4 separate regions of the Homo sapiens genome follow, and all the other regions are linked to region 1. The links come from fine-mapping of genetic effects on gene expression. A gene starts in region 1. Each other region holds a variant in brackets. All regions are shown on one strand. Distances are from middle to middle.

Region 1 (7,386 bases):
TCCCATAACCCCAAACAAAATAAAAACCAAACCAAACCAAAACAAACTGGAAAAGATTCCCCTAGTTGGGGGTGCAAAGATGATAATGAGGAAGCCATGAGGTCTTCTTGATCGGAGGAGGCGGTAGACAGGGACATGGGTAACTTCACAGAGAGTCCCTGTGGCCTGGCACAGGTGCATGTGATATAATATAAATGGTATATGAGCTCTCCTCTGGGATATGTAAGCCTATCTGCATAAAGCAGTTCTGTAATGTAAGAACTTTGGAATGATGGGTAGGGGAGGAGGGAGGAGAGAGTAATTTTTTCTTATGGAGGCTGTATTGCTCAGGATTTAGGATGCCCCACAAACATTTAGGAATAACATATGTCAAATCACTAGGGTGTGATGGTACATTTTATAGATCACCTTCAATAAGAAGAAAGCCAAGACTTTTAGAAGTATCTTGGAGCCTGACCTGTCCCAAAGTAGGCAAGGCCTAGGGCCATTTCCATTCAAACTCCTGGGATCAAGTGATTCTCCTGCCTTGGCTTCCCAAAATGCTGGGATTACAGGCATGAGCCACCTGGCCCGGCCTGTGGTGTATTTTAAATGTTTATATTTAACACATTAACACTTTGAACATAAAAGTATACAATGACTACATCATTAAACTCATTTGAGTATAGTATCAACATTCTAAATTTAAGGTAGAGCCCAAAGAGCCCTCTTGCTTCCCCTCGATAGCCCTTAGAGTCTGTGAAGAAAGCTCTTTTTCTAAGTCCCGAATGATTGCATAATTTCAACAGGCACCAGCAATCATTCATTAAGTGTACTTGTTCTTCTCAGATAAAGTCTTCTGATTTTAGGTATAGAGAGATCACCGTATCTCCTTGCCACAGCATCAGTCTCCTCATTTTCCGCCCTTGTCTGTTTGTGTTGCTATAACAATACCTGAGATTGGGTAGTGAAAAGAGGTTTATTTGGCTCATGGTTCTGCAGGCTGGACAAGACGCACGGCACAGACATCTGCATTGGATGAGGGCCTCAGGCTGCTTCCACTCCTGGGAAGGCAGAAAGGGAGCACACCTGTGTGAGGCACATGGGCAGAGAGGAAGCTAGAGAGAGAAGGAGGAGGTGCCAGCTCTTTTCAACAACCCGCTCTCTGACAACTCACTCATGCCTGAGGGAGGCATTAATCTATTCATGAACAATCTCTCCTCAGGACCCAAACACCTCCCATTAGGCCCCACCTCCAACACTGGGGATCAAATTTCAACATGAGATTTGGAGGGAACACAAATCCAAACCATAGCAGAGAAGTCACCAGGAAGAGTCCTGATTGTCTCCCTGCCCTGGCATCAGCCTCCTCATCTAAACTCTGGGAGCAGTAACCCCTTCCCAAGCTGTCTGCCCCTCCAGAGTGTGTTCAGGGTTATTAGTGGCTGGCAAGCAGGGGCTACTCCCTGGATGAGAGGGCAAAGTCTCTCATAGGGTGAGATGATCCTGTGGCAATAAACTAACAATGCCAATTAGCGGTGCAGACATGTCCTATAGATCAGAAATGAGGAGGAAGTCCCAAAGGGCATTGAGAAACTTAAATCTGGATTTTGGGGCTTTGTGTCAAAAGCTTCTGAACATAGCTGTGGGTAGAGAAGATGGAACTGAACAGAAAGACAGCCAGGCCAGCTGCTAAAAAGTTATGCCAGCCTCGGTGATAAGACAGAGATTACTGTGGGATCACAGACTGCTATTTTGGGAACATACATTATTTTCTTAAAAGCTGTTTATATTTTCTGTAATTAGGTCCTTTTTGTTCTGTCTTATGTTAACACATTTAAAAATGCTAGCCTGGTCAGCTGTGTTAAGAAGAACCAAGAAAGAGATTTTCATTCGGCTTGTCCAGAGTTTTAAAGGGGAAGTGGCTTACTAACCGCCTGACATAGTGGAAACAGAGTGAGATCCTCAGAGAGCAGGTAAACTGAGGGCAACTTGAGCTGTAAACCCTTGTTTAGAAACTCTCCCACACTAAGATACATTTATCAAATTTGTCTCCATCTCTCCATCCCCACAGTCTGTTACTGTCCTGGTGGCCCAGACAAGAGAGAAGAAGGGACCTCAATGAACAATGAAAAGGAAGAGTACCCTGGGATTGGTGGTCCAGGGATGGGAGGAGTGGGTACCTATGGAGTTTGCCCTCCAGAATGGAGCCCGCAAACAGAAAATCTGATTGTAGCAGTCAGAGAGTAGGGGGTGGAAGTTCAGTGTGAGCATGAACTTCTGAGTGCCAAAGTACCTAGGCAGGCAAGTTACCAAATTTTTTTTTCTAGTTAGGGAAGGAGAGGACATATAGATGACAGGAGGACTTCAACCAATGCCTAGGTAGGGGACATGTGAGGGTTAGTGGGCTAGCATTGCTCCTTAAGCAAACTGGGGCACAGAGCAGAGTTAATGTAGCTAACTGAAACTTAACAGCAGAGAAGAGGCAGGATTAGGGGAAGAGAAAGGCTGCCGATTGTGGACACCTGAGGACTGGAGACCACCCACCCATCAGGCTGGGGACAGTTGAATCATTCAGGACCCCACCAGGTTCTATTTGAACACAGGACTGGTCCTCTGGGGCTGCTGCTTGAAGAGCTTTGGTAGCTACAAAATGTCCCAGCCTCAGTTCTGCCCTTACCATCTGCTCCAGTTATCTACTGAGTAACCTACCACACCAACACTCAGTGGCTTAAACAACAACAATCCTTTATTTTGCATTTTGAGCAGGGCTCAGCAGGGACCACTCACCTCTGCTCTGTAATGTCTAGGGCCTGTGACTCAAAAGGCTAGGGACAGCTGGGGACTGGTGGGACATTTCTCTTCCTACAGACTCAGGGCTTCTCCCCACAGTCTTTCCCATGTTCTCTGCAGCAGTCTCCGGGTAGCTGAACTTAGGGGTGACTTGAGGCTCCAAGAGCAAGAATTTGCAAAGGCCCCAGCAGAAGTTGCAAGGCATTTATGATCTAGCTTCAGAAGTTCCAGGATATGGTCATTTCCACTGTATTCTATTGGTTTAACAAATTGCTAAAACCTGCCCAAATTCAAAGCGAGAAAGTATAGACCCCACCTCTCAACGAAAGGAGTAACAAATAATTTGCCACCATTTTTAAACCATCATGCTATCTCACCAAGTCCTCAACAAAGCCTCCTAACTGATTTGCTGTCCTCAGATTCTCATTAGTGACAGATCGGGATGCAGCAATGCGCAGAGTAGAAAAAGTGAGGGTTTTGGAAGCCAACAGCCAGCCCTACATCCTGGTTCAAGCAGGATCCACCACTCAGCAACCAGTTGAGCTTGTTAGGTTACTTAACTCAGAGCCCCAGTGTTCTTGAGTGTAAAATGAGGATAATACACTATAGTTGCCAAGAAAATGTACTTCTTGGATCTTGCAGTGTAGATAGCATAACTGACCAATGGCTCCGCCTCAACTGCTGAGCTCTGCTGAAATCCATACCCTGATATTTATCCCTAGGTTGCTGCAAAGGCCAGCTTCCTAAGGCTGCTCCCAGCTCATGACTGAGCACAGCAGGGATACTAAGGCGGGCCTCTTTCTGGGAGATGCCAGACTTCTGGGACAAGCCCATTTGGCTAAAGGATTCCCCACCCCAATGGCCTTGCTGAACTTTTTATACATGGACTGTATATATATCAAATGCTTCCTTCCACCCAACCTTCCTTCCTTGCTTGCCTCTTTCCTTCACAAGGATCACACCTGCATCCCAGGTCCAGCTCCCTGTTTTCCCTCAAAACTCTCTTGCATAGTACCCCCATCTGGGACTGTTTCTGGAGGACTGGGACAAACACAACCTCCTATTCATAGGACTGCCAAGGGTATTAAATGAGTAGAACTGTGCAAAGAAACTAGTAAAGGGCTGGCGTAGAAGAAACACTCATTTAACGAACACTTCTTGAGTCCTGGCTGTGTGCAGGTCTTGGTCCTGGGTGTCTGGGACACCACAGTGAGCAAAGCAGGCAAGAACACCAGCGATGCCTGCTTTAAGCTCCTTCCCAACTTCCACATCTTTAACAGGATACCAAGAGCCCTTCAAAGTCTGACCTCTTGGGGCCTCAACACCTCCGACTCCACCCCCTGAACACCTGAGCCTACAGTCAAAAGGAACTTCCTTCTTGCTTCCTACAGGTTTTGCTCTTTCACCCCCAATGCCTTTGCTCACCGTTTCCTTCTCCGTGAAATGCCTCCTCCTCCCTTTTTTGCACATCTTCCATTCTTGCACATGCCCCTTACGTGACAAACTTATGCATCCCCCAGGCCCCAGTTCAATGTGGGGCCCTAGGTCATCCAGGCAGAACATGCTTGCTGGCATGATCTCAGCAGGCACCTGGTAGAAGCACTTGCTACATTGTGTTGTAATTGCGGTAACGGTGTCCCCGCTAACTTGCGAGCGCCTCTAGAGCAGGGGAATGTCCCAGCCACCTTGAATCCCCAGCGCGTGGCCCATGGGAGGCCCTCAGACCTATCTGCGGAATGAGTAAATGAGTGTGTGAACCAGGTTCGGCAATTTCGGTGGGGCGAGCGCTGGGCCTGCGGTGCAGGGCGCTGGGAGCGGCCAGGCCGGGCCTGGCTCAGGCGCCGCAGCCACTCAGGGCCACCGGGGACCGGCCGGGGAGGGCGCGGGCCGAATCACTGCCGCCGCCGCAGGGCACATGACTGCGGCCTCCGCCCCCGCCCGCCTCCCCGCGCAGTCGCCGGCGGTTGCCTCGCGGGGTTGCGGCGAGCCCGGCCCGCGAACGTCACGTCCCTGCGCGCTCCCTGCACTCTCCCGAGCTGCGCTAGGCGGGCGCCACGGCTGCCCGGCGAAGGAAACCGAAACCGAGTCCGGGCCCGTCCCTCCGCGGCCCCATCCGCCCGGTGCACCCGGGGCCGCGCTCGCCAGGCCGCGGAGCCCAGAGCTGCGCGCACGAACCGTGCGCCGGGAGGGCGTGGGCGTGGCGCCGAAGGGTCCCGGGTCTTCGACGCCTCTGCGGCGGCTCCTCCCTCCTTGCAGTTGGATCCCTGGCGGGTGCGGCCCGGCCCGGCCCGTGAGCGGCGCACAGAATGGGCCGATGCTGCTTCTACACGGCGGGGACGTTGTCCCTGCTCCTGCTGGTGACCAGCGTCACGCTGCTGGTGGCCCGGGTCTTCCAGAAGGCTGTAGACCAGAGTATCGAGAAGGTGAGGCGGGGCGGGCTGTGTGTGTGTTGTGGAGTCGTCCAGCTCACCCTCCCATCCCTGCTGCTACATCTTGTATGGGAAAGACCAGCACTCAGGCAGACCCTCCGCGCTAGAGCTCTTCTTGCGTCCCTGTCTTCCAGGGCTTGGTAGGCGAGGGTTAAAGAAGGATGAGGAAGGATGGAGCCGACTCTGTTCCCTTTACAGTGATAAGTAAGGCTATGGATCCTGACTTTTAAAAAGGCCTTCGGTTGTGTTCTGTCGTTTGCATCTCTCCCCACTCCTTCCGTCTACACCCCAATCTCAGGTGGGCCCAAACTTGTTTCCTTCCCACTTCATGAAGAAACAGAACTGAATGAAAGACACCGCAGAAGAGGCAGGTTATGTTGTCTGCTTGCTGTAGCCTTTGAAGTGGTGTGCGCCTGGGGATGAGACGTGGGTGTGCGGTCTATTGTGTTCTTGCCCTCTTGGGCTGGGCAGGGGCAGTTGGTAGCTGGGCCAGTCCTTTAGGCTGGGTGACAATTCATCCATCAGTCTTTGCTGAACGCTGACTTAGTGGCTTTGTATCTTGTACCAACAGTCTGTGTTGCTTTGTCTCACCATGAATTCTTGTTTTTCTCAAACGGCCATAATTTTCAGGCACAGATGCATTTAGATACCCTACAAGAATCTGAACTTGTCTCTTCCTCTAGATGATTGGGCTGGAGAGCCAGTCCTTTAAGAAGACTTCATCTTTTGATTTCACTGGTCATTTCATCTGCCCTTTCCCCCACATCCACCAAGCTGTGTCAAAAGAGGAACAAAAGAGAATTACTGGGATCATTTTTTCCTTAAAAAAGAAAAATAATCACTGGAGCAGCAGCCTTTCTTGTTAGCATCCATAACTGCACGCTTCATTTCTCCCACTGGTCTGCACTTGCTGCGGCCAGATAAAAAAGCCCAGGCCTAGTCTACTTTGAATCACTGCACTCTCCAGTCAGTAAAGCTATTTTATTCCAGGTGGCAATGGATATCTTCCTTTAACTGAGTTTCCAAAAGTAATTAAGTGAGTACCTGAAATCTGGCAGTTAAAGGCAGTTTTTCAAAAAGCACCATGGCAAAGCATAATGTAATTTTTAAAGTTCACATTGCCAAGGGAAGACAAGGCCCACTGTCTGAGCGTCTCGAGGGTCAGTTTCCTTTGAGCAATCATGTTCAAGGAAAAAAGAAACTGAATCCTTTCTCCACTCCTGTCCATGTCCAAATCCATGGTGAGCTGTGTTTGAGGATGTAAACTCTTGCTTTGGGTGACTAGAGTAAAGCAATCCAATTATAGTAAATATGTGAGTTTTCTTATATGGCCTTGAAAGGCTGTTTCAAGGAGCCCTATAGGATGAGTGATCTTCCCCGTGGTTCCCATATAGCCAGCCCTTAGATTCTCTGTGTGTCTCCATTTCTCTGGGTGAGGGGGTGGCTGTAAGGCAACTTGGCTGGGGCCTGAGTTTGTGTTGATATTTCCAAGTGTTTTTCTCCATGAGGAATGGACTCTGTTCTGATAAGTAATAGTACAGGGAAGTGGACTTTCAGAGCTGCTCAATCCCAGCTAAGGAGGACTGCACGGTGTATTGTATGAAACTAAAGGACAGGGCTAGTTTCAGTGGGCAGGTGTGGAAATACTGTTGTCATTAGAGGTAAGTCACACATCGCTATTCTGCTTTTTCCTGGATTACCTGTAGGGTGGTAGGTAGCATGGGACAGTGGGAAAGATTGAGGATGTTACACTCCTGGGCATGAAACCTAGCTTCCACTATGTCCCAGCTCGGTGACCGTGGGCTGTTTAATCTTACTTGATTCATGTTTTCCCCATCTGTAAATAGGGATAATAAGGACTAACGATCACATCTGCTTTGTCAAATAATTCTTATAACCTTAAGGTGTGATCTTTCTGGGATATAGTTAGTGCTTAATAGGTGATAGCAACTTTATTTTTATTAGAAGCCACACAAAGAAAATACGTGAGATTTGGAGTCAGATTCCATATGTTCAAATCCTATCCTTGCCAGTATAAGCTTTATGACTTACGTCAAATAACTTACTTGGTCCTCAATTTCATTGCTTGTAAAACTGGGGATATGAGCTGTTAGCTAACTTGGGCACAGTGATGCATTTACCATGAAACTCGCAAAGTTAAGCTTTGGGTCTCTCACTTGCACAG
Region 2 (7,640 bases), 83 kb before region 1:
AGAAAAATAAAGCTGGATTACTACTTTGTACCACATAAATGCTGAACTCCAGATGAAATAAAGTCCTAAATGTAAATGGTAAAACTATGAATAGAACAAAATCCAGGAAACTGGCAATGTGACATTGCCTAACATAGGAGGCCAAAAACATTTTGACTTCATTAAAATGATGCTATCTGGTCAATGAAGGGTGCCATAAACAGTTACCAGATAGAGCCAAACTGGGGGAAGATATTTGTGTTGTCTAAAACTGATAAGAGATTAATACCTAGCTCTACAATGAACTCGTACAAATTGGCAAGAAAAAGACGCAAGATCCAATATAAAAATGGACGAGGGACGCTCTTTCCTCAGTGCCCAGAACAATGACTGGAACATAATAGGCACAATAATTTTTGGCTGAATAAAATTAGACACAAAAAATGCTTAAACTCATTGATAGTCAGAAAAATGCAAATTAAAACAATGATATGCCATTTTACATCCATCAGAGAGACAAATATTAGAAAGAAGTTGTGTGGTGCTGCTGTTGGGAGAGCCAACAGGTACAAACACTCTGGAAGAGTGTTGTGAAGCTAAGTATGCACATAGCCAATGGCTGTGCAATCCCACTCCTCAACATGTAGGCCCAGGGAAAAATGTGCACAAGACTATAAGGGACATACAGTGTTACTTGGGCCAACGGCAAGTTCAAAGCCCCTGGCTGTTCATCATAGGGTAATAACTAAATAAAATGCGATAGATGCCTATGAAATACTATGCGGTAGTTAGAACAATGAACAAGATCTAGACATAATGTAATTAAATCTTAAATACATAATGGTGACTAGAAAGGCAAGAAACAATGACTTACAGTACAATAATATTTATGCAAGTTGAAAATACATAAACACTCAAAATAGCACTACTGAGGCTTCAAAGATACATGCATATTTAGGAACAATTCTTAACACATTAAAGGAAGTGGTTTGGTGGGCAAAAGTATAGGAATAGGAGTTGGGATAAAAGGAGAATGAATAAATAAACAAAGAGGTCCAGGGTGGGGTCTGGATTCTGCTTTCCTAACAAGCTGCCAGTTGATACTGGTCTGTTGGCCTCACTGTAAGTAGCAAAGAGACTAAGGAGTAAGGTGAACTCAAACCTTGCAGGCTTAAAGAGGAAGTGAGGAAGAATGGAGGGAAATATGAGGGAGGAAGGAAGAGGAGAACAGGCAAGTTTTGAAGGGTGGAGTCAGGGAGAGTCCAGGGCAGGGGCAGCGGGCCCGGCACACAGAAAAGGGAAGAGCCCATGGGTGCCATTGGCAATCTCTGCTTCCTCCAGTCAGACCTGCCGGACCACGCCATGCACTCCAGCTCCTCACACAATTAGATACAATTCAAATAATTGTAATCATGAGTGAAAGACTCCCAATTCCCACCAGGTGCACACTGTTACTAGAGAGAATGTAAGCCAAATTTCTCCTCAGAGAGATCCTCCCCAACCAAAGTTGGCCCTTGCCCTCACTTCCGCAGGCCTGCCCCCTGCTGTTCTCCATCCCTGCACCCCATTAATTGCCCATGTCACTCTCCATATTATCTTCTTTGATTAAAGGTGTGTTTCCCTCACTGGATTGTAAGCTCACAAGGGCAGGGAATTTATAGTTTTCTCCCAGTGACCTATAGGGTGCCTAGTGTCCTACACGGTAGAGGCTCAAAATATGTATTTATTGAGTGAATGAATAAATGAATATCAAGAATGGTCAAGCACTAGCATGTACCACCAAAATATAGGCTGTAAATGTCCAAGAGATTTTTTTAAAAGCATTGACAGTTATCTTCTTGGGAGAGAATGAGGTAGATTAGACCAGGACAGATCTAGCAAAGCCACCATGAGGGCAAAGTTTGGGGTGTCCCTTTATCTCGTTTCTTGTCTTCTTCCTCTTTTTGGTATTATTCTTTTTTTTTTTTTTTTTGTGAGACAAAGTCTCACTCTGTTGCCCACACTGGAGTGCGGTTGGCACAATCTCGGCTCACTGCAACCTCCGCCTTCTGGGTTCAAGTGATTCTCCTGCTTCAGCCTCCTGAGTAGCTGGGATTACAGGCATGTGCCACCACACCTGGCTAATTTTTGTATTTTTAGTAGAGACGGGGTTTCACCATGTTGGTCAGGCTGGTCTCAAACTCCTGACCTTGTGACCCGCCCGCCTCAGCCTCCCAAAGTGCTGGGATTACAGGTGTGAGCCACTGCACCTGGCCTCAGTATTATTCTTTAACTGCTTTCTGATTCCACCCATCCACCCAACCACGGAACTGTAAATATTGTTATCTGTGAACATTTGTCAAAAAGAAAGTTGATGTGTCACCAGTACCTTACAGTGAACTTGTTTGATATTTTAAAATCAGTTTAGAGGGAGGACAAACTAAAATAATGCATTTTTTTATTGATATGTCATATTTGTACATTTTTATGGGGTACATGTGGTATTTGTTACATGCACAGAATGTGTAATGATCAAGTCAGGGTATTTAGAGTATCCATCATTCTATGTGTTGGGAACATTTCAAGTCCTCTCTTCTAGGTATTTTGAAATATATAGTACTTTGTTACTCTGGCGTCAAATATTACAATTAATTCCTTCTATCTAACTGTCTGTATTAACCAACCAACCTCTCTCTTTATTCCTCCCCCACCCCCTACACACCCTTCCCTGCCTCTGGTAACTATCATTTTGCCCTCTACCTCCACGAGGTCAACTTTTTTAGCTCCCAGATATGAATGAGAACATGCAATATTTGTCTTCCTGTGCTTGGCTTATTTCACGTAATATAATATCCTCCAGTTTCATCTATGTTGTTGCAAATGACAAGATTTCATTCTATAGCCAACTTAGATTTCATTATGTATTTGTAAACTATTCATCCAACAAGGGACAAATATCCAAAATATACAAGTAACTCAACAGCAAAAGAACTAATAATCCCATTAAAAAGTGGGCAAATAATGCATTTCTAATGTAAGAATTTTATACCCTGCACACCTACCTTGGAGGGTGATGGGGGAAAGCAGGGCTTCCCCACCTCTTCTAACCAGAATGTGTAATACTGCCTATTCTGCCCACAGTGAAAGCAGGCCCTGTGAGCACACCATTGCTCATGCCCCAGGAGAAAATTGAGCTAAGTCACAAAGAAATGCAATAGACCAAATTCATTTTTAAATGTTCATTTTTAAAAATGTTCACCAATGATAAAAATAAATTCAAATATAAACAATATATTTTAATAGGGAAAAAATTCAACCTTTTTGGAGGCAACTTAGCACTCTATATCCAAAAACCTTAAAGAACAAGACAGAATAAACAACTATGTGAGTGTGTGTGTGTGTGTGTGTGTGTGTGTGTGTGTGTAGCTGCATGTACATATATCCTTTGACATAGCAATTCAACTTCTGGGAATTTTGGGTGAGTAGAGGCCAGAGGTGATACTAAATATTCTACAAAGCACAGAACAGTCCCTCACAACAAAGAATAATAAGAAAAATTCGAT[C/A]CAAAACATCAATATTGCCTGGGCTGAGAAAATCTGCACCAGAGCATGTGATCTCAGGGAAAGCAAAGAGGGAACACAATGCCTTTTACAGTCTAGTTTTGGAATCACACATCGCTACTTCTGCTACATTCTATTCTTTAGAAATAAGCCACTAAGCACAGCCCACACTCAAGAAAAGCAGAATCAAGCTTCATCTTTTGAAGGAAAGAGTATCACAGAATTTGTGAACATATTTTAAGACAAGACCAATCTGTCCTCTAGCCACAAATTACTTACATTCTTTTCATATGTAAAATATACTTACCCCCACAGCCCCACCCTTACAAAATCCTCCCATAACCCCTTTACAGCATCAGTTTGGAATCCAGAATGTTAGAATCTGAATCAGGCCCAGGTACAGATGAAACTGCTTAGATGTACTTCCTAAGTACAATTATTCTAATGCATTTCCTTTCAATCTGAAGACAGAAAGGTATATGCCTATCCCTCCCACCCCCACCCTCTGTAACATCACCCAACATATAATAGTAGAACAGACACAATATAATCACCATATACAATCATATTCCAAAAATAGGAGAAAAATAGAGGCATACAGGAGTCACTGCTCCATGGCAATTCTGTAAAGCAGCCAAGGAAATTGTAGAAGGTCCTCAATTAGAACTTTGTTCAACTAGGAATAATTCTGCATGGCCTTTGTTTCCACTTTCTTGGTTATGTCCTCTGAGTCATCTGTTCTATAATGGAAGCACATATGTGTAGCTGAGAAGTTCTCTCAGTCTGCTTTCTGCCAGTAGAACTATGGAGATCCAGAGGCCTCTTTTCATTTCATACTGTCTTTGTCCCTTTTAGTCCAAGCTGGCAGTTTTTATTCCAATACAATTCTTTGAAAAACTTTACAGATTTCCTGTGACTCTTATTGGGTCCATGCCATTTTTCAAAAGCCAAATCTACAAATCAATTCAAGATAAGCCCTTCTCTACCATGGGCTTCTGGTGAAGAACAACATCTTCAGCTTCTTAGAAGCTTTATTTGTTTGATCAAAAGAAACTGTAGCACACCTAAGAAAATTTTAGGGAGCCTTTTGTCTAGTTGAACAGTACGCTGAGGCAACACCTTTTATCTTTCTGAGGTCTTAACAAAGGATTTAACAGTTACATCCTTACATCCTTGGAGTCTTCTTTAGACCATGTTTTCCTGGCAATGTCCTGGATTTTGTCTTTGCCCCATATCATTCCTTAATTTAAACATTATCTGCTATCCAAGAGGCTAGACATTTCGAAACCATAAAATCCTGGTTCCTCTTTTTAAGCTGTCCTGCTTTAGCTTATCTATTTCTTCTTGCATTTTGCTGTAAGCAGCAAATGAAAACCAGGCAGTATCTTCAACATTCTGTATGAAAATCTCCTTCGTTAGATCATCCAGCTCATCAGCTGCCTTTTCTACATTCCATGTGGGCTAAACTTTTTGCTATTTCATAACAAGGAGACTGTTTCTCCCACTTTCCAATAACATTACCTCATTTTCCTACAAGCTGTCACCTCCTCAAAGGCTTCTACTAACAGTGTTTTTAAGGCCCTTGAAGCTTTTACTAACAGTCTTCTCAAAATTTTCCAGCTTCCACCCCACTACCCAGTTCTTCTCCCTCCCACACTTTAGGTTCTTGTTATAGCAGCACTCCACTTCCAGGTAACAAAATCTATATTAGTTACCTATTACTGCTTAACAAATAAATCTTAAGCTTAATGGCTTAAAACAACAAACATTATAGTGGTTTTTGTGATTCAAGAATTCAAGAGCAACTTTGTGGTTCTGGCTCAGGACCTCCCGTAAGACTACAGTCAGGATGTCAGCAGGGGTTGCAGTCTCATCTGAAGACTTACTAGGGACTGGAGGATCCACTTCCTAGATGGCTTGCCCCATGGCTGCTAGAAGAAGGCTTTAGTTCCTTGCTATGTGGGCCTCTCCATAGACAACTTTAGTGTCCTCACAACATGGCAGCTAGACACTCCCAGAGCAGATGATCCAAGTGAGAACAAGAAGGAAGCCACAATTTCACCTGATGTGATTGGGACTCAGAAATCAGGCATCATCACCTTTCCCACATTGTCTTCATTAGAAGCAAGTCGCTAAGTACAGCCCACTAACTACAGTCACTAACTACACTTGAGTGGAGGGAATTAGACACCACATTTTGAAAAAGTATCAAATAATTTGTGGACTTTTTTTTTTTTTTTTGAAACAGAGTCTTGCTCTGTCGCCCAGGCTGGAGTGCAGTGGTGTTATCTCGGCTCACTGCAAGCTCTGCCTCCTGGGTTCAGGACATTCTCCTGCCTCAGCCTCCCGAGTAGCTGGGACTACAGTTGCCTGCCACCATGCCCAGCTAATTTTTTGTATTTTTTAGTAGAGATGGAGTTTCACCGTGTTAGCCAGGATGGTCTTGATCGCCTGACCTCATGATCCACCCGCCTTTGGCACACCAAAGTGCTGGGATTACAGGTGTGAGCCACCAGCCTGGCCAATTTGTGGACATATTTTAAAACAAACACAAATCCCCAAATCAGGGGCTCTTTGGAATTTTCTAAAGAAATATGTCTTGAAACTGTTGAACTGGGAGAGAGAGAGATAATTGACTGTTTAGTTTGCTAAGTTAAGACATCATTTGAATTCACAGGTTTTTAGGATACCTTATGTGAAGCTAGAACATTGTTTGGAAAAAGTGAGACCCTGAATCCTGAAATGGGAACATATGGGAAGATACGGTGGGCTCCAAGTACCCTAAACTCCCAACCCTATGAAAATATGCTACTCAGATCATCTGCTGCAGAGAGCATCATTGGCTGGTGGACCAAATTGCTGCCTCCCTGGATCCTCCACCCTCACACTGAGGCCATGCTTCTCATGGGCTACCCCTAACCAATGACTGAGCATGCCAGAAGCACCAAGGTAGTCCCATTCTGGCAAGAAGTGAAACTCCTCCTCTAGGCAACTTCAACTTGAGGACTTCCTGCTGGACTGGCGAAACCTTTATTTGAATTGTGCTACAGTCCAAGATTCTTCTTACACCAATCTTCTTTCCTTCCCTTATTCCTTCCACAGATATCAGACAGGCATCACAGTCTAAAGCTCTCTCTATCTTTTCCCATTCCTTCCTTCAGTAAAGCTCAAGAACATCTATTCCCATCTTGCCATTGCTTCTTGGCACACCTGAATTAATGCAGCCTTCCTCGTCAGAGAAAATCTCCCTTCATGATGAGGCTTTTTCCATCTTTCATGAAGACTCTGTAATGTTATTCTTTGTGGGAGTAACCTTACTGGAGGTAGGGGAAAACAATTCTCTTCATTCTTTGCTCCTAACATCCCTCATTGCCTTGAATTCTATAGTCAATAAGGTGCTAGAGACAGGTTGTACCAACTCACAAAGGTCAACTGACAAATTTTCAAGAATTTAGTGAGCTGATTGCTAAACACAACCATTATTAAAACAAATTATATATACTTACAGTTAAATAAATGATGTGAAAAACAAAGATAATTACAAACTCATCACTTCCTAGTTGACAGCTTTTTATTATTATCTATGCTGCTCAGATTATTTATATGTATTATAACTGGGTGTTGGAAATACTCTATAATGGTGTGTCTTTGAATTTTGGAGACCAGATTTAGACATGCTGTTTCAGCTAGTTTTTTTAATAATCTGAGAGGTTGCCAATTTTGAGTGCAGCCTGAAGCAAGAGTATGCTTTCTCACTGGTCCAGGAAGCTCTGTCTTCTGATCCAGTGGATCCAATGTTATTGAAATGCCTGTGGCAGACAGGGCTGCTGAATGGAGCTTTGGAACATCCAGCACAGGCTCTGAGAGTTTTGCAGCCAAGCCACGGATTCTGTGGCATGTAACTTTTCTCCTTTTGAGAAACAGATTTTGGCTTGTTGCTGAGCACTGGTAAATACAGCAGCCTAATCTCATGGCTAGCACTCATCATAAGCTGGGGACTATCTGATTCACCACGCCATAAAGTCAGCTAACATTTAGTGTGTGTGCACAGTGTGCCAAGCTCTGCTCTAAGTACTTTACTTGCAACATTTCCTTTAATCCTCACCACATTTCTGGGAAATA
Region 3 (7,640 bases), 52 kb before region 1:
AGGTGAAAAATAAACAAACAGCATGGAAGGAAAAGCACAAGCTAGTGCTGTGAAGAAAATCCCACAGGGTGATGAGACAGGGACCCAGCTTGTGGGATGACAGTAAAGATGGGAGCTTGGTCACAGGGTCTGAAACTACAGGCAGTTACCAGAGAAGCTAAACTCTTATTCTAAGGTTCCTTCAGTTTCCTGCCTTGAGAGACGAATCGCCTCCAGCAGCAGGAATGGGAGAAGTGGACGCTGGAAATCAGGCAATCCAATCTGAACAGATTATGGACAAGCAGTAGTTTGGATACTAGGCATAGTGGGCGTCGTCTGCTTCATCCAGCATCCCCGCTTCAATCACCCTCTGAGGAGTCTCTGTCCGTCACTCTCACTCTGTTGCAGCTGGGCTGGACACCCCCACTCTTGGCTTCAGGGTTAGGTGTGTGTCATGGCCTAGCCAATAAGCATATTCCATCTCCTTAATCATAATGGTTAATTCAAGCAAAAGCATGTGCCCCAAGTTAGTCCAGTGAGAGTAATTCCTGGACTTTTCCCTAATGGAAAAGCTTTGCTGTCTTCACACTTAGGTTGCTCGCTGGTAGGATATAAGCTTGGAAATTTTAGTGGCTACTTTTGCCATTTCTTGGGGAAATATTGATTGAGAATGAAGTCCAAGTTGCACAGCCAAAAGATAGGAACAACATCTAAAAATATTTCAGCACCTGGATCCAGCTGTGCCTGAAGTTCCTACTATATCTGGATGCTTCCCTTTTCTCTCTTAAACCAATCTGAATTATATTTAAGTCACTTGCCAATGAAGTAAGTAGCTTGATGTTTAAAGTACTAAAAAAAATACATTGACTAAAACTAACACTCAAAAGATGGGGTGGGGACATGGAATGCAAATCCTAAAGACCTTAAATCCAAGAAAAGCATCAGGTATTTAGACATCTACAGAGACTCAGGAACAGGAATAGGCAACTATATAGGTTCTTGGAAGGCGCACAAGGGAAGACCTTGATAACTGAGTCAAAAGTCTCTTTATGTCAGATTTTTTTTTTTTTGAGACAGGATCTTGCTTTGTTGCCCATGCTGGAGTGCAATGGCATGATGACAGCTCACTGCAGCCTCGATTTCCCAGGCTCAAGCAATCCTCCCACCTCAGCCTCCTGTGTGGGAAGGGGCACACCATCATGCCCAGCTAATTTTTATTTATTTATTTATTTATATTTTTTTAAGACGGAGTCTCTCCCTGTCACCCAGGCTGGAGTACAGTGGCGCAATCTCTGCTCACTGCAACCTCTGCCTCCAGGTTCAAGCAATTCTCCTGCCTCAGCCTCCTGAGTAGCTGGGATTACAGGTGCACACCACCACACCCGACTAATTTTTAAATATTTTTAGTAGAGACAGGGTTTCACCATGTTGGTCAGGCTGATCTCAAACTCCTGACCTTGTGATCCACCCACCTTGGCCTCCCAAAGTGCTAGGATTACAGGCATGAGCCACTGCACCCGGCCTAATTTTTATATTTTTTACAAAAATACAAGAGAGACAAGGTTTTGCCATATTGCCCAGGCTGGTCTTGAACTCTTGAACTCAAGTGATCTGCCCGCCTCAGTCTCCAAAAGTGCTGGGATTACAGGCATGAGCCACTGCACCTGGCATGTCAGAACATTTTTGTGTGAAGATTATAATCAAGGAGTACCTGCCAGAGTACTTCTAGGTAAATCTAACTAAGAAAAATGAGTTGAAGGAGTGAAAGAGAGAAAAGAAAGTCCTAACAATAAAATGGAAAATAAAAATATGAAACAGCTGCAATGATGTGAGATGTAAACATAAACATTCAAATTAGCAGCAAGTTTGCAACCTTTCCAGAAATTTCATCTACCAGAAATATTTCTATTTATACATAATAGAAGAAAATGATTCCTTTACGACTTTGAGGATTTGACTTAGATTTTATCCAATACTGTTTTTTAATAAAAGCAACTTTGAGCTTGACATTTAAAAGTAGGTTTAAATATTACCACTAACTTACAAAAGTAGTAACCCACTTGCAGAAGTCACTAACTGCTTTGCATACATTTTCATGAAGACCAGGACGAGGACCATTTTCATGGAGCAAATCCATTTTATGTGGCTTTTCTTCATAAAGCCATTGGCCTGCGTTTGACACAGACGTCTTCTTGGAACTAAAGATAAGATCATTAAAGAATTACAATATGAGACACAATGAATCCAAATGGATTTCAAACAGTTTTAGAGGCAAAAGGAAATCATAAAGCAAGTATTTCTAACAGTCTCTTGCAAGCTCACATACAAATTGTATTTTAATTTTTCAAAGAGCACATTCTCATTACGAATATCATAAAGACAAGTATATCATGATTAGTTATAATAATTAAAACTTACATAGCATTTACCATTATAAGTTGATTTTTTTAAATTTTGAGTACCATTTATTAAAACATGTACTGGGTAAAAGCCCAAATTACTGTGCTTGAAGTCTACCAAAGCCTCAGGCAACCTTGACAAGTAGGAGTCATCCTTGACTTCTCTAACATTCTTAAAATCCAGCTCAGTTAAGGTCTGGCAGATTGTAACTGTCTCCTTCTCTGGACTGCTGCAAAATGCTAGTGTCTCTGCATCATCAACTCCTATGGCTCCCCCAACCTCCAACCCCCAATCCATTCCCTACAATGCATCCCAAGCAGTCATTTCAAAATGTAACTCTGGACATATCAAATGCAGCCACGCTTCGTCACCATCAATAGCTTCTTTATAAAAATTGAGATATAATTCATCCACCATGAAATTCATAAAATTTACCACTTCAAAAGTGTATGAGAGTACCCTTTATATATTCACAAAGTTGTGCAACCACCACCACTATCTTATTCCAGAACATTTTTATTACCCCGAAAGAAACCCCGCAGCCATTAATAATCACTCACCATTTCCCCATTTCCCTCGCTCCTGGCAACAACTAACCTACTTTTCTGTCTCCGTAGATTTGCCTGTTCTGGATATTTCATCTGAATGGAACCATGCAATATGCAGTCTTTTGTGTCTGGCTTCTCTTAATTAGCATAATGTTTTCAAGGCTCATCCATGTTGTAGCATGTATTAGTAGTTTATTCCTTTTTATGGCCAATACTCCATGGTCTACATAGACCACTTTTTGTTTATCCATTCACAAACATATCCAGGTGATGGACTTTTGGGCTGTTGCCACTTTTTGCCTGTTAAGGACAATGCTGCTATGGATATTCATGAACAAGCTTTTGTGTTCAATAGCCTCTTGCTATTCCTCCAATAAAGACTTAAATCTTGACACAACCTCCAGGGCTCTGCATGGCCTGGCTCTCCAGGTTCTTTGGGACCCACCACCATTTTTTACTCTCTGAGCTCCAGCCAATGTGGCCTTCTCTCAGTTCTGTGAATTCATGCTGCTCCCTCCAGCCATTGGGCCTTTGCTTGAGCTGTTGCATCTGACTGCAATGCTGTCACCATTTCCTTATCCCCTTCATATCTCAACATACATGTGCCTTCCTCGGGGAGGCATCCCCACAAGCTGTCCCCTGAAGCTACTCTTTATTCATAGCCCCTGTACCTTTTATTCATAACACTCATATTAATTTATCCACCCATTCATTCAACAAATA[T/A]TCAGTAAGCACAGACTATGTGCCAGGCATTAGAATTGAACTGTAAATAAACTTAAGCCCCTGTCCTCATAGAGTATACAACTGAATAGGAGAGACAGATAGTAAACAAACATATGCCGGGTGATTATAAGTTATATAGAGAAAGTAAAATAGGACAGGAGGGGGATGGAGAGTGATGGTAGGGAGCATTTTATTTATACAGAGAAGTTGTCTCTATTAAAGTAATATTTGACCAAAGACCCAAAAGAAGAAAGGGGTCAAACCATGTAAATGTCAAGTCATGCAGATAACAGACAGAAAAGAATGGCATGTGCAAAGAGCTGAGCTGGGAGTGTGCTGAGCATGTCCAAAGAACACAAAGTCCCGTGGAGCGGAGTAATTAAAGAGTAGAATAGTAGAGGATGAGGCTTGAGAGGTGACAGGGACCTAATCATACAGTACTCTGAAGGCAGTTGTAAGGACTTTGGATTTTACTCAGAAAAATAAGCAATTGGAGAATCTCAAGCACTGGAATGACACGACTTGACTTACATTTTTAAAAGGATTATGTCAGCTACTGTGTGACAAATAGACTTGAGAGAGGGGAGCTTGGGTGGAGGCCATGAGACCAGTTAGTAAGCTATTGCAACAATCCAGGCAAGAGGTGATGGAATCTTGGAATAGACTGGTAGTAGTGGAGAAGGTGAGATTCTGGATACATTTCAAAAGTAAAGTCATTACCATTTGCTGGCAGATTGCAACTATTGTTCCAGAAAAAAACTGGAAAGATGGGGTTCCCATTTACTGAACTGGGGAAGACAGAAGGAGGAATAAGTTCGGGGGAGAAAACAAGAGTTCAGTTTTGGGTTTGTCTAGTCTGAGATGCCAATTATACAACTAAGGACAAATACTGAATTAACCATATACAGATGGACCAGAGGAGGTCACTTGGTTGTGAGTAAACGTGCTGAAAAGACGTCAAAGACCAAAGTACTTCAAGGCTAGAAGGTAAAGAGCGGCCAGTAAAAGATGACTACGGAGAGGTCCATGAAAGAGGGATGTTCCAGAAGCCAAGTAAAGAAAGTGTTATGAGAAAGAGGACATGATCAATTACGTCAATTGCTACTATGTATACAACAAGTATGGTGATCCCTGAGAGCTGATTTAGTTAACATAGAGGTCAAAGGAGACCTTGACTAAGGTCAGGTCAGTGGAGTGGTGGAGATAAGAGCCTGATTGTTGTTTGGAGAGAAAAAGACTAAGTGAGTATGAATGCCTCTTTCAAAAAATTTTGCTCTAAAGGAAAGGACAGATTATCTGGTGAGTGGAAGTTGGTGTCGCTTGCATCCTGCCAGCACCTGGATGTGTCCATCAACCCGGAGGTTCATCAGATATATGTGTTCAAGAGTTTTTAATCTTCAGCCACGCCCCTCTCTTTCCCCTCTGAGAGGTCACACTGAGTGGGACTGAACATTCTAACCCTCTAATCACTTGGTCTTTCTGATGACCAGCCACATTCTAAGACAATCTAGGGGCCTCAACCTGAGCACCTCATTAGCATAAACTCACCAGTGACTAAAAGGGGCTCCTTATGAATAACAAAAAGCATTCCTGTCACTCAGGAAATCCCAAGGGTTTTAGGAGCCCTGTGTCAGTAACTGGGGACAAAGACCAAATATATTTATTATATCACAGATCCCTACATATAACACTCCTCTCGCTCCCTCACCCAAGTTCTGAGCAACTTCAAAAACAATACAGAGAGCAAAGACAGTAGCCAAAATATCCCCTTCACTGATAACAGCAGCCATGATAGACGACATGGCTTTAGGTCCAAGAGGACTTGCTAACTGACACTCAGAAATTGGCAGACCCTTCCACCCAGTCCCCTGCAAGGCTGGACCAGGACAGTCCTCCCCTCTAGAATGGGGAAGCAAGGAGAAATTGTGCTTCCCATGGGCCATCTTGCTCCTCATGGAGGAAAGGCAGAACTGAGACAAGCACGTCCAGTTACCCTTCCTACATTTACCAGGAGGTGGACTGAAGAGTCAGAAATGTCCTAAGACTAGAGTTCCTCTCACCTTGTGTCTTACCCTAAAAAACATATATAATGTAATGCAGTAGATTCCCTCTAAATCCACCTCCACGTAGGTAATGTGTGTGACCAACAAGCTCTACATGGCCCCCACCAAACACACTGACCACAGTCCACACTCCTCTAAGTGTCTGGGTACTGTGGATAGGCTACTCTCTAGTTCACCGTACTCTTCAGCACCCATCAGTGAGGTCTTTAATTTCAAAAGTCAAATGTAGGCCCGGCCCAGTGGCTCATGCCTGTAATCTCCACACTTTGGAAGGCAGAGGTGGGCAGATCACTTGAGGCCAGGAGTTCAAGACTAGGCTGGCCAACATGGCGAAACTTTGCCTCTACCAAAAGTACAAAGATTAGCCAGGTGTGGTGGTGGGCACCTACAGTCCCAGTTACATGGGAGGCTGATGCATAAGAATCACTGGAACCCAGGAGGTAGAGGTTGCAGTGAGCCAAGATTGTGCCACTGCTCTCCAGCCTGGGAGACAGAGCAAAACTCTGTCTCAAAAACAAACAAACAAACAAAAAATGTGTATCCCAAATCTATTTGTGTCCAGTAAACTTATCACTGCGTTTATGTTATTTAATTAAATATTATATTGACTGGGGAATCAAGAATGTGTTACAAAAGGGAGGTGCTTTCGTTAAGCTTAATGCTTTGAGAAGGGTCAATGAAGGTAGTATTACAGGTATGGTTTATGCAAAAAAGATGGGTGGAAACTCCAAGCAGTAGACCTATACTCAGAAAAAAGGCTTAGGTCAGGCATGGTGGTACATACCTGAAGTCCCAGCTGCTCAGGAGGCTGAGGCAGGAGGATCATTTGAGTCCAGAACTCAAGGCTGCAGTGAGTTGTGATCTCTTCACTGCCCTCCAGCCTTGACATTTCTTGGGGCACAAAGGATGATACCCCAAAAGTATGGTGCTTTGGCATGCTGAGCACTTTTGAATTAAAGGAAATTGGAAAGCCTTAGAAGCTGCCTCAAAATCAAGGATTTTCTAACCTTCACTGTTTCTACCCCTCAAGCATAGGGAGGGACTCTCTCTGGAATTTCCTTATAGACGCCTGTGTCTGCGTCGTCGCTGGATAAATCACATCCCTTGAAGAAATAAGCACTATTTAGAGCGGTACCTAGGACTCCTTTCCCTCTTCCTTGGGAACTTAGTTACATTTGCTTCATTAGAAGTATTCTAAAGATGAGAAGTTTTAAGAAGGTAATTCCTAGAATGTTTCATCAGGTGACAGCAATGATCGAAGGGTTAAGAACAATACTCACGGTCCCAGGTAGACTTGGGTAGAATGTTTTTTTAAAAGCTTCGTGGGTTCCTTCATTCCTTTCCTGGTGTCCTGACAATAAGCCCATGTGTCCTCCAGCTTCCGGTCAGGATCAAGCACTTCCAGCACCTTTGATAAGAGCTACAAACAGAAAATAGTCTTAGAGGAAAAGAAAAACATGCTGAAGAAGGGAGTCCCCATTCTACAACAAAACAGACCAACTTGCCCTTCACTTTTCCTTTTCAGTCCATCAGTGCTGTTCACCAACTTCTGTGCCAAGTATTATGCTGGGTGCTATGGATAGATTTGGACCATATCCCAAAAGGCATAATCCCAAATGTTAAAATCCTAAAAGATCATAATCCCTAAAGTCTAAAATCCTCAAAATCACAATCCCCAAAATTAAAATCCCAAAACTATAATTCTGAAAAAAAATTGCAAAAAAAGTATTTTAAAGGCACTTAAATTTTTAGATGGAGATTTATTTGAGAAATGTAAAAATGAGAGAACACTTCATTGGCCATTTTACACAACGAATTAGGCAATAACAATATACATAGTTTTGCAAGCATAAACAGTCAGGTGTACTAGCAGTCACATGGCTATAATATGAGCAGGGAAACCATATTCATGAAGAAATAGCTCAAA
Region 4 (7,640 bases), 110 kb after region 1:
GCCGTTGTAACATATTACGTGTTTGGGGTGATGATGGTGTAAATAAACCTACTGCACTGCCAGTTGTATAACTGTATAGCACATACAATTATATATAATACATAACATTTGATAATAAACAACTATGTTACTGTTTTATGTACTTACTATACTTTTAATCATTATTTTAGACTGTACTCCTTCAACTTATTAAAAAACGTTAACTATAAAACAGCCTGAGGCAGGTCCTTCAGGAGCTACTCCAGAAGGCATTATCATAGGAGGTGACAGTTCCATGCACGTTACTACCCCTGAAGACCTTCCAGTGGAACAAGATGTGGAGGTGCAAGACAGTGATATTGATGATCCTGACCCTGTATAGGCCTAGGCTAATGTAAATGTTTGTGTCTTAGTTGTTAACAAAAGTTTAAAAAGTTAAAAAAAAAGGTGATAAAAAAGCTTTATAGAATAGGATATAAAGAAAAAATATTTTTGTACTACTGTACAATGTGTGTTTTAAGCTAAGTGTTATTACAAAAGAGTCAGATTAAAATTAAGTTTATAAAGTAAAACAGTTACATTAAGCTACGGTTAATTTACTATTGAAGAAGGAAAATTTGTTATGAATTTAGTGTAGCCTCTGTATAGTATGTATAAAGTCTACAGGAGTGTACAGTAGTGTCCCAGGCCTTCACATCCGCTCAACACCACCCAGAGCAACTTCTGGGCCTACAAGCTCCATTCATGTTAAGTGCCCTATACACCTGTACCATTTTTTATCTTTTATATTTTTACCATAACTTTTCTATGTTTAGATACACAAATACTTACCACTGTGTTACCGCTGCCTACAGTACTCAACACAATAACATGCTGTAAAGGTTTATAGCCTAGGAGCAGTAGGCTATACCATGTAGCCTACATGTGTAGCAGGGTATACCATCTAGGGTTGGGTAAGTACACACTATGATGTTTGCACAACGACAAAATCACTTAACACATTAATCAGAACATACCCCATCTTGTTAAGCAATGCATGACTGTATGTTACCACAGACCAGTGGTTCTCAGGGGGGCATTACTGCCCCAAGAGGCAGTTTGGACGATTGTCAAGAGTTTTTTGTTTTTTTTTTTAATCATTGCTAACAGTGGAGTGGAGGTAGAGGGATAGATATCCTGCAGTGCTCTAGTTCTGGACCATGAAAAATTGACCAACTTCCTGCACAACTTTAAAATGTACTGCTAGACATACATGTAAGTTAAAACCTATTTAAAATAATCAAACTCAGAACCTAAAGCAGTTTTATGTATATTTTTAATAGTTTTGATAAACATTAAACATCAGTTTTTATTTAGTATCTACTCTATTTCTTCACTCCATTTTCTTATACTTCCTGTATAGAATAGCTTCCAATCTTCTCTTCAACCCAAATTTATTTGCATAAATGTAAACATCGGTCTACTTTAGACATGATGTTGATTTTTATGGGTACAAATGCATCTCATCTATGGATCTTCTTTCTGGATAATATAAGGACTTTATAAAATACTTGTTATAAAGGGAGAATTGGGTTGAGAACCACTGTTCTTTTTTTTTTTAATATATATTTTCTTTTTTATTTTTATATTTTGCTCCCAGTCTTCAGACTGGTAAGAACCACTGTTCTAAGAGTAGAAACTCTAGATACAATGGAAAACGATTATCGAAAAAACAAAGCTATATTGTCCCCAACACACACATGCACACACAAGCTTTTGGATATGACATTATACTCTGTTATTAAGATGCCTTAAAACCTTGCAACTTTGTTCCCTTTATTGAGGAAAAATAAATTTCTCACTTTTTCTATATTACAGAAGCAGGCATTTATCAACTGAGGAAATGAGATACTTCTTACTAGGATTGTTGATATTTCCTTGACTTTTATCTTCTAAAATATAAAGAGATTTTGAGTTAGTTATATTGTATATCTGTTTATCCAGAAAAGAAAGATCTGATTAAAAATTAAGCAAACTTGGTTATCTCTGTGAGTGGGTCTGAGGGGCAGGGTAATAGGTTTACGGGTATGTGTGGGGTTAGGGGAAGGGTTTAATTTGTTCTCATCTGTGCTCTTTGAATTTTTTTTCCCATCAATATGTGTTTACATAAAAATAAAAGTTAAAATTTTATTCACAAAAAGTATTTTCTACATATTGAACTTAGATTCCCAAGTACATTAATACCTACTATTGAGTGTTCACTATGTGCCATGCATTGTGCAAATGCTTTATGTACACTGTCACCTTTACTTCTTAGTCTTATTAGCCAGGTATAATTATCCATATTTCACAGATATTCCTTAAAACATTTATGAAATGTTTTGAGGAATGCCATGCATAAAATCACGGGGGTAACTGGTGCTAGAAATATCTAATTTCAAATTTGCTCTGAATTACTATGCTATACAGATGCTTCTCGACTTATGATGGGGTTGTGTCTCAATAAATCCAATGTAAGCTGAAAATACCATAAGTCAAAAATGCATTTAACTCACCCAACCTACAGAACATCATGGCTTAACCTAGCCTACCTTAAACGTGCTCAGAACACTTACATGAGCCTGCAGTTGGGCGAAATCAGCTAAGATAAAGCTTATTTTATAATAAAATATTGAATGTCTCATGTAATCTATTGAATATTGTACAGAAAGTGAAAAAGAGAACGGTATGGGTACTTGAAGTATGGTTTTTACTGAATGTGTATGGCTTTCAGACCATTGCAAAATCAAAAAATCCCAAGTTGAACCTGATAGAGCAGGAGCACCGTCATCTTGGACAAACACCACCACTTTAAATTCGAGCTCCCTTTCTAGCCTCATGCATTTCAAGGAAATCACCTCTTCTAACTACAAGCAGCCAGAAGGAGCAAACAGTAAAACACAGATAAAACAGCTCGGGCACAAAGGGAGGTGGGGGGGAAGTCTCTTGAGTAACTCCCAAACTTCGCCCTCATACAGTGGGCCCCAGTAAAACAGTGGGCCTTAATAAGCACATTCCTTTCTCTTCAGGTGCACTAAGTTAGGGAAGCTAAAAGCAGACTTGGGGAATATGCCTGCAGCTGCAGAATGATGTATGGGAACAGACACACAACGCTCTCTCCCAGATAAGCACAACAAAGAGACACAGAAGCAGTCCAAGCCGCTGATAAACTCTCCCACCCTAAATCCTTAAAAACTCTTAGTCTGTAAAAAAGTGGGCCTCTAACCTAACTCGGCCAGAAGGCGCCTCTCAAGTTTGTTTTCTCTAAAATAAATCTGTCCTAACTGGCAAGCCACCTTTTCGTGTTTCTTACAGACTGACCATTGTAACTTGGAGACCATCTGTACTACCAAGTGTGTGCCTAGCATAGAAATATTATGATATTACCATATTTTAACAGCTTTGAAGCCAAATACCAATTCTAGGTGCCCAGGATAGAAGTGGATAACTAAATCTGTTTGGAAGACAAGTGTAGCACAAAGTGAACAAAGCTTGAAAAGTTTGAGTCCTGGTTGTCTCTAGCCTATTATAAATTTGTTAGCCTTCTTATGTTCCATGTTCTCATCTCTGAAGTGTCAATAATATTTATCGTATTGGATTAAATGAGCTCCTGTGTACTGTTTTCACATCACCTTTTAAAAAGCTACACATAGCTTTCCAGGAGAGGGCACAATACACTGTAGTCCCAACAAAATCTAGTGGCCTA[C/T]TGGACGATTGTAGAGTGTGGTGAGGAGCACACAGAATGGCTGGTCCCAGTATTGGCATGCTGCACAGTCCTCATTCACAGTTCTTGGATGATGCTATTTCTATGTCTACAGATTCCTTCACCCTGAGAAGCCTGCCTCATTCTGGAATAGACAGGCCCAGCTGGAAGCCAACTGTTCCAGTTTAAGATCAAGTGCCTTTTTTGATGTTTGGCCCAGAGAACCGTAATAGCAGCCTGCTGCTCACACTGAAAGAAATTCTCAACACTTTCCCTGTCTGGCTTGCAGACTGGGATATCGGAAAGTGTACAGCCCAGATGTCTTCCCCAGACCCCATAAGACTGAACTAACTGAATGATTATGGTAAAGGACTTAGAATCCATGGTGCCTCCACCCCCAATAAAGAATATATTACCAGGTTTTTCATTCAGTTGTATCATTTTTATTCCTAAACAAGAAAGAGGTTTTCAGATAATAACAAAGGCAGCTACCATTTACTACTATGTTACCACCATTCATTTTGCTAGGTACTTTGCTAGGTACTTTATCTCATCAGTCCTGCAAGACAGAAGCTTTCCTCATTTTACAGATGTGAAAGCAGGGGCGTAGAAAGTGAAGTAACTTATATAAAGCTACTCAGAGGAAAGTGGCAGAGACTTCCTGAAGCCAGGTCTATCTGTCTACACAGCTCATGTTCATCTCCCACCATGCTCGGTGGCTGCCTTTCAGATAGCCAGATGAGCAAGACCCCAATGATGGCACTGTGCAAACTCAGGACTAGCGAGCTGAAGAGATGTAGACGCACAAGGTGTGTCATCAGTGTCACTAGAGGTTCACTTCAAAGTTGTGGCCAAATAAATCCAACAGTGCAAATTTGGGTCAATATAAAAGAGGTCCTGGACCCTTTTCTCTGAGCCTATGTTCTCTGAGCCTTTATTTAACTAATGGAAAACGCTGTTTCTTTATACAGCACGCAGCTTCCATTGACAGCAGCGTTACGTGAAGTTCAGCACTGTGTGGCTGGATATAGTTTTTAAGATGCCAAATATCTAATTTCCTTAACAGATCATCATTTCCATAATAACAAAACCTGCAAAAAAATATTTCAAAGTACTACATGAACTCAGGAGAAAGGGATTTATGCATTGGACAGTGGCTTGCACCCTGAGATTCCATGGTTTTATAGTCCTTACAAATATTCCTGTCATGTACATGTGACTACTGATGGCTACATTTGATAGATGACAATTATGAGGCATAGAAAGTCCCATGCATATCTAATGGTGACTGTACTCCCCAAACTGGCATGTTCCCCTCTGGCATGCCTATCAGTTGCTTACCAGGTAGTGGAAAAGGTTCTGGAATTTTCATTCCTAAATGAGAAGGAAGTTTCCAATGACTTACAGTTTGCTCCACTGAGTATAATTTTCAAACTCTTGTCTGCTGAGCTTAAGAGATGCAAGCACCCAAGGCCCCAATGCACTATAGTTTCTGGCTTTTTATTTAAAAGTTCTGCTTACGTAAACCCTTATTATACAAATCCACACCATGATTAGAGGAGTCTTCTGCCATAGCACTTCACTGAGCATGTTTATGCCAGGAGAATATCGTGTTTTGTTACCTGGAGATACAGGCAATGAGATGTTAGCCAAGACTAACAGTCAACTTGTGCGTAAAGGTAGGTTTCTATTGAATAACTTTAGCTGTAGAACCTGGAAGGTGTTGGACTGATGCATCCAGATCCCAGGAGCCTTCCCCTCAGCAACATCCAGAGCAGAACTAACTTTCCTGCCCCAGAGACAATGCTCCAGGAGCACATGAATGCACAGGAGGAAAGAGACTTCTCTACGCTTCCCCAGCTAAATATTTGTAGATGACTGGCAGGTAGCTATAAGGGAAATATTCATGAATAATAGTCTCATGACAGTATTCTCTTAAATGCCTGGGAATCCTGCTCAACTCATTCTTGGGCTCAGGGAGTAAATAGAAAGCTGTCTTACCAGGTATTTGGGTGGGTTCAAGGATTTTCACACCTAAAGGCAGAAATAAATATTGGTTTGTATTAATCAGTTATCTTATACTGTTAATACTCTTCTTTTGTCTATATTTCCTCCATTTCCAACTTTCAAAAAAAAAAAAAGGCAGGGGGAAAGAAAAAAGAAACAGCAACAACAAAAACACCTTTCAATGGCTCTTCATTCTCCATGTGACAGAGTCCAAACTCCTTAGCCTGGACTTCAAGAACTTCCACGATCTAACCCGTCTCTCCAGCTTTATCTTCAGAAGGCAGTCCCAATATATCAGTTTTTGGATGAAACACTACTGGTTTTACATTTCTGCTTGGTTTAGCTCTATCGTAATTATAGTTATTAGCTCTGTGACTTTGGGCAGACTACTTAATCCCTCCTAACTTTAGTTTCTCACTTTGCAAGAGAAATATTTACCTCTTAGGTTTGTAGTTAGTGAAGATTGAAGGAAAGACTGCATAAAAGTGCTTGGTACACTGCACGGAGCGAAAAAAGGTACTCAATAAATGAAGTCCCTTTGTTCTTGTCTAACTCATTCCTCAAACTCTCCAGGCTCAGTAATATTTTTTTTTCTTTTTTGAGAGACAGGGTCTCGCTGAGTCGCTCAGGCTGTGGTGGGGTACAATGACACGATCATAACTCACTATGATTCTCCTGCCTACGCCTCCCAAAGAGCTGGGATTATAGGTGTGAGCCACCGTGCTGGCTTTTCACAATGTTCTTAATCCTAGGAATCCTTATCGTCTCCTAACCATGTAGCTAGTCTCAGTAAATAGATTATTTCCCAGGTGAAACAGTGAGCCTCTGGCTTTTTATTCCTAAGGACGAGAATAAGAACTATTTAGTAAAAAAATGCCATCAGCTTGAAAATTAATTTGACCTTATACTTGACTTCTGTAGTAGAAAACTCAGAACGCTTTGAGAAATGGCAGAGGACAAGGTAACAAAAAGAAGAGATTTAACCCACTGGAGCCTAACTGATGATAAGAACTAAGGCTAGTGACCCAGAATCTCTCCTAGGTTAAGCACCTCTTGTTCGTTTTTTAAAAATTCAACCCAAAGACCTCGACCCAAAATTGGCATTATATGTAATATATAAAATATGCTTCCTAACTATATAATACGTTATAGATAATTTGGAAAAATACAGAAAATTATTAAAAATTAAAGTTCTCTTAAAACTGCAGATCTCGGAAATACTCTACTCATTCTTAACATTTCTGGTGTATTTCAATCATTTTGCTATGCATACATATATATACATATACATTTTTAAAAGTTAATATTATACTCTATATGCAGTTCTATATCCAATTATTTACCATTGTATTAAGAGTACTTTCTTCTATCTTTAGATGGTTTTGAAAACATGATTTTTAAGTTGCTTAGTGTTTCATAATATAGGTAATATTTTATTTAACAATACCCAATGGTTGGACACAGGTTGTTTCTAAATTTTTGCTACTGTCAAATAAAAATTATAGGAGGCCATTGCTTCAGACTAAGTTTCTGCAGAAGGCCCCAACAGACCAGACTAAAAATCGAAATGGAGTCACCCATGCTAAAGTTCCACATCATCTAAACTAAGTTGTCTGAACTTCTAAGAAATCAGGAGAAAGAAATAACAGAATTTCCCAAATTGGCCATTTTAAAATCTTCAATCAGCTTGATAAATGAAGTTCCCGATGCTTCAATCCTTACACACAAAAAAGGTAGCCTGAAATAAACTGATGTTAACTAATCAGTTATTTTTCTACTGTTCTGTCTAAAAGTAATTAATATACTCTGTTCTTTGCTTCCACTTTCTTTGGCTCTTCTCTGTCTTTAAAGCCAAACTTCTGTGCTCAGCTCAATGAATGCTTATTCTATGGAATAAAGTGTTGCCCAATTCTAGAATCTCAAATAAAGCCAA

Alleles and levels. Positions count from the first base shown, and alleles are read on the strand shown. Sizes are in standard deviations (SD) of each study's normalised expression. Not every link is listed here.
For the expression in testis of the gene that starts at base 4,798 in region 1, allele A in region 2 goes with a higher level than allele C (small effect, 0.18 SD a copy in GTEx).

The links. PIP is the estimated chance that this variant, and not a neighbour inherited with it, causes the effect.
Region 2: its variant is the best candidate, but not a certain one, in a credible set for the expression of SCARB2 in testis (GTEx, PIP 0.77).
Region 3: its variant is the best candidate, but not a certain one, in a credible set for the expression of SCARB2 in whole blood (TOPMed, PIP 0.51).
Region 4: its variant is the best candidate, but not a certain one, in a credible set for the expression of SCARB2 in blood mononuclear cells (TOPMed, PIP 0.89).

What each region holds. Positions count from the first base shown.
Region 1 is chr4:76,211,236-76,218,621 of GRCh38, reverse strand. SCARB2 (scavenger receptor class B member 2) reads left to right here and starts at 4,798. Exons shown (of 12, transcript NM_005506.4): 1 at 4,798-5,195. The coding sequence starts at 5,079. It also overlaps a transcript of FAM47E not described here. RefSeq lists silencers at 4,460-5,079, 4,993-5,397.
Region 2 is chr4:76,293,786-76,301,425 of GRCh38, reverse strand. The region is part of intron 6 of FAM47E-STBD1 (FAM47E-STBD1 readthrough); the gene reads right to left. Among named protein-coding and RNA genes, the nearest start is that of STBD1, 9.1 kb to the left of the region's middle. RefSeq lists an enhancer at 1-16. The variant C/A (reference allele first, on the strand shown) is at 3,522.
Region 3 is chr4:76,263,197-76,270,836 of GRCh38, reverse strand. FAM47E (family with sequence similarity 47 member E) reads right to left here. Exons shown (of 8, transcript NM_001136570.3): 3 at 6,994-7,133; 4 at 2,069-2,177. FAM47E-STBD1 (FAM47E-STBD1 readthrough) reads right to left here. Exons shown (of 7, transcript NM_001242939.2): 3 at 6,994-7,133; 4 at 2,069-2,177. Among named protein-coding and RNA genes, the nearest start is that of FAM47E-STBD1, 15 kb to the right of the region's middle. The variant T/A (reference allele first, on the strand shown) is at 3,651.
Region 4 is chr4:76,102,031-76,109,670 of GRCh38, reverse strand. ART3 (ADP-ribosyltransferase 3 (inactive)) reads right to left here. Exons shown (of 12, transcript NM_001130016.3): 9 at 5,702-5,734; 10 at 5,042-5,074; 11 at 1,878-1,910. Among named protein-coding and RNA genes, the nearest start is that of ART3, 31 kb to the right of the region's middle. The variant C/T (reference allele first, on the strand shown) is at 3,704.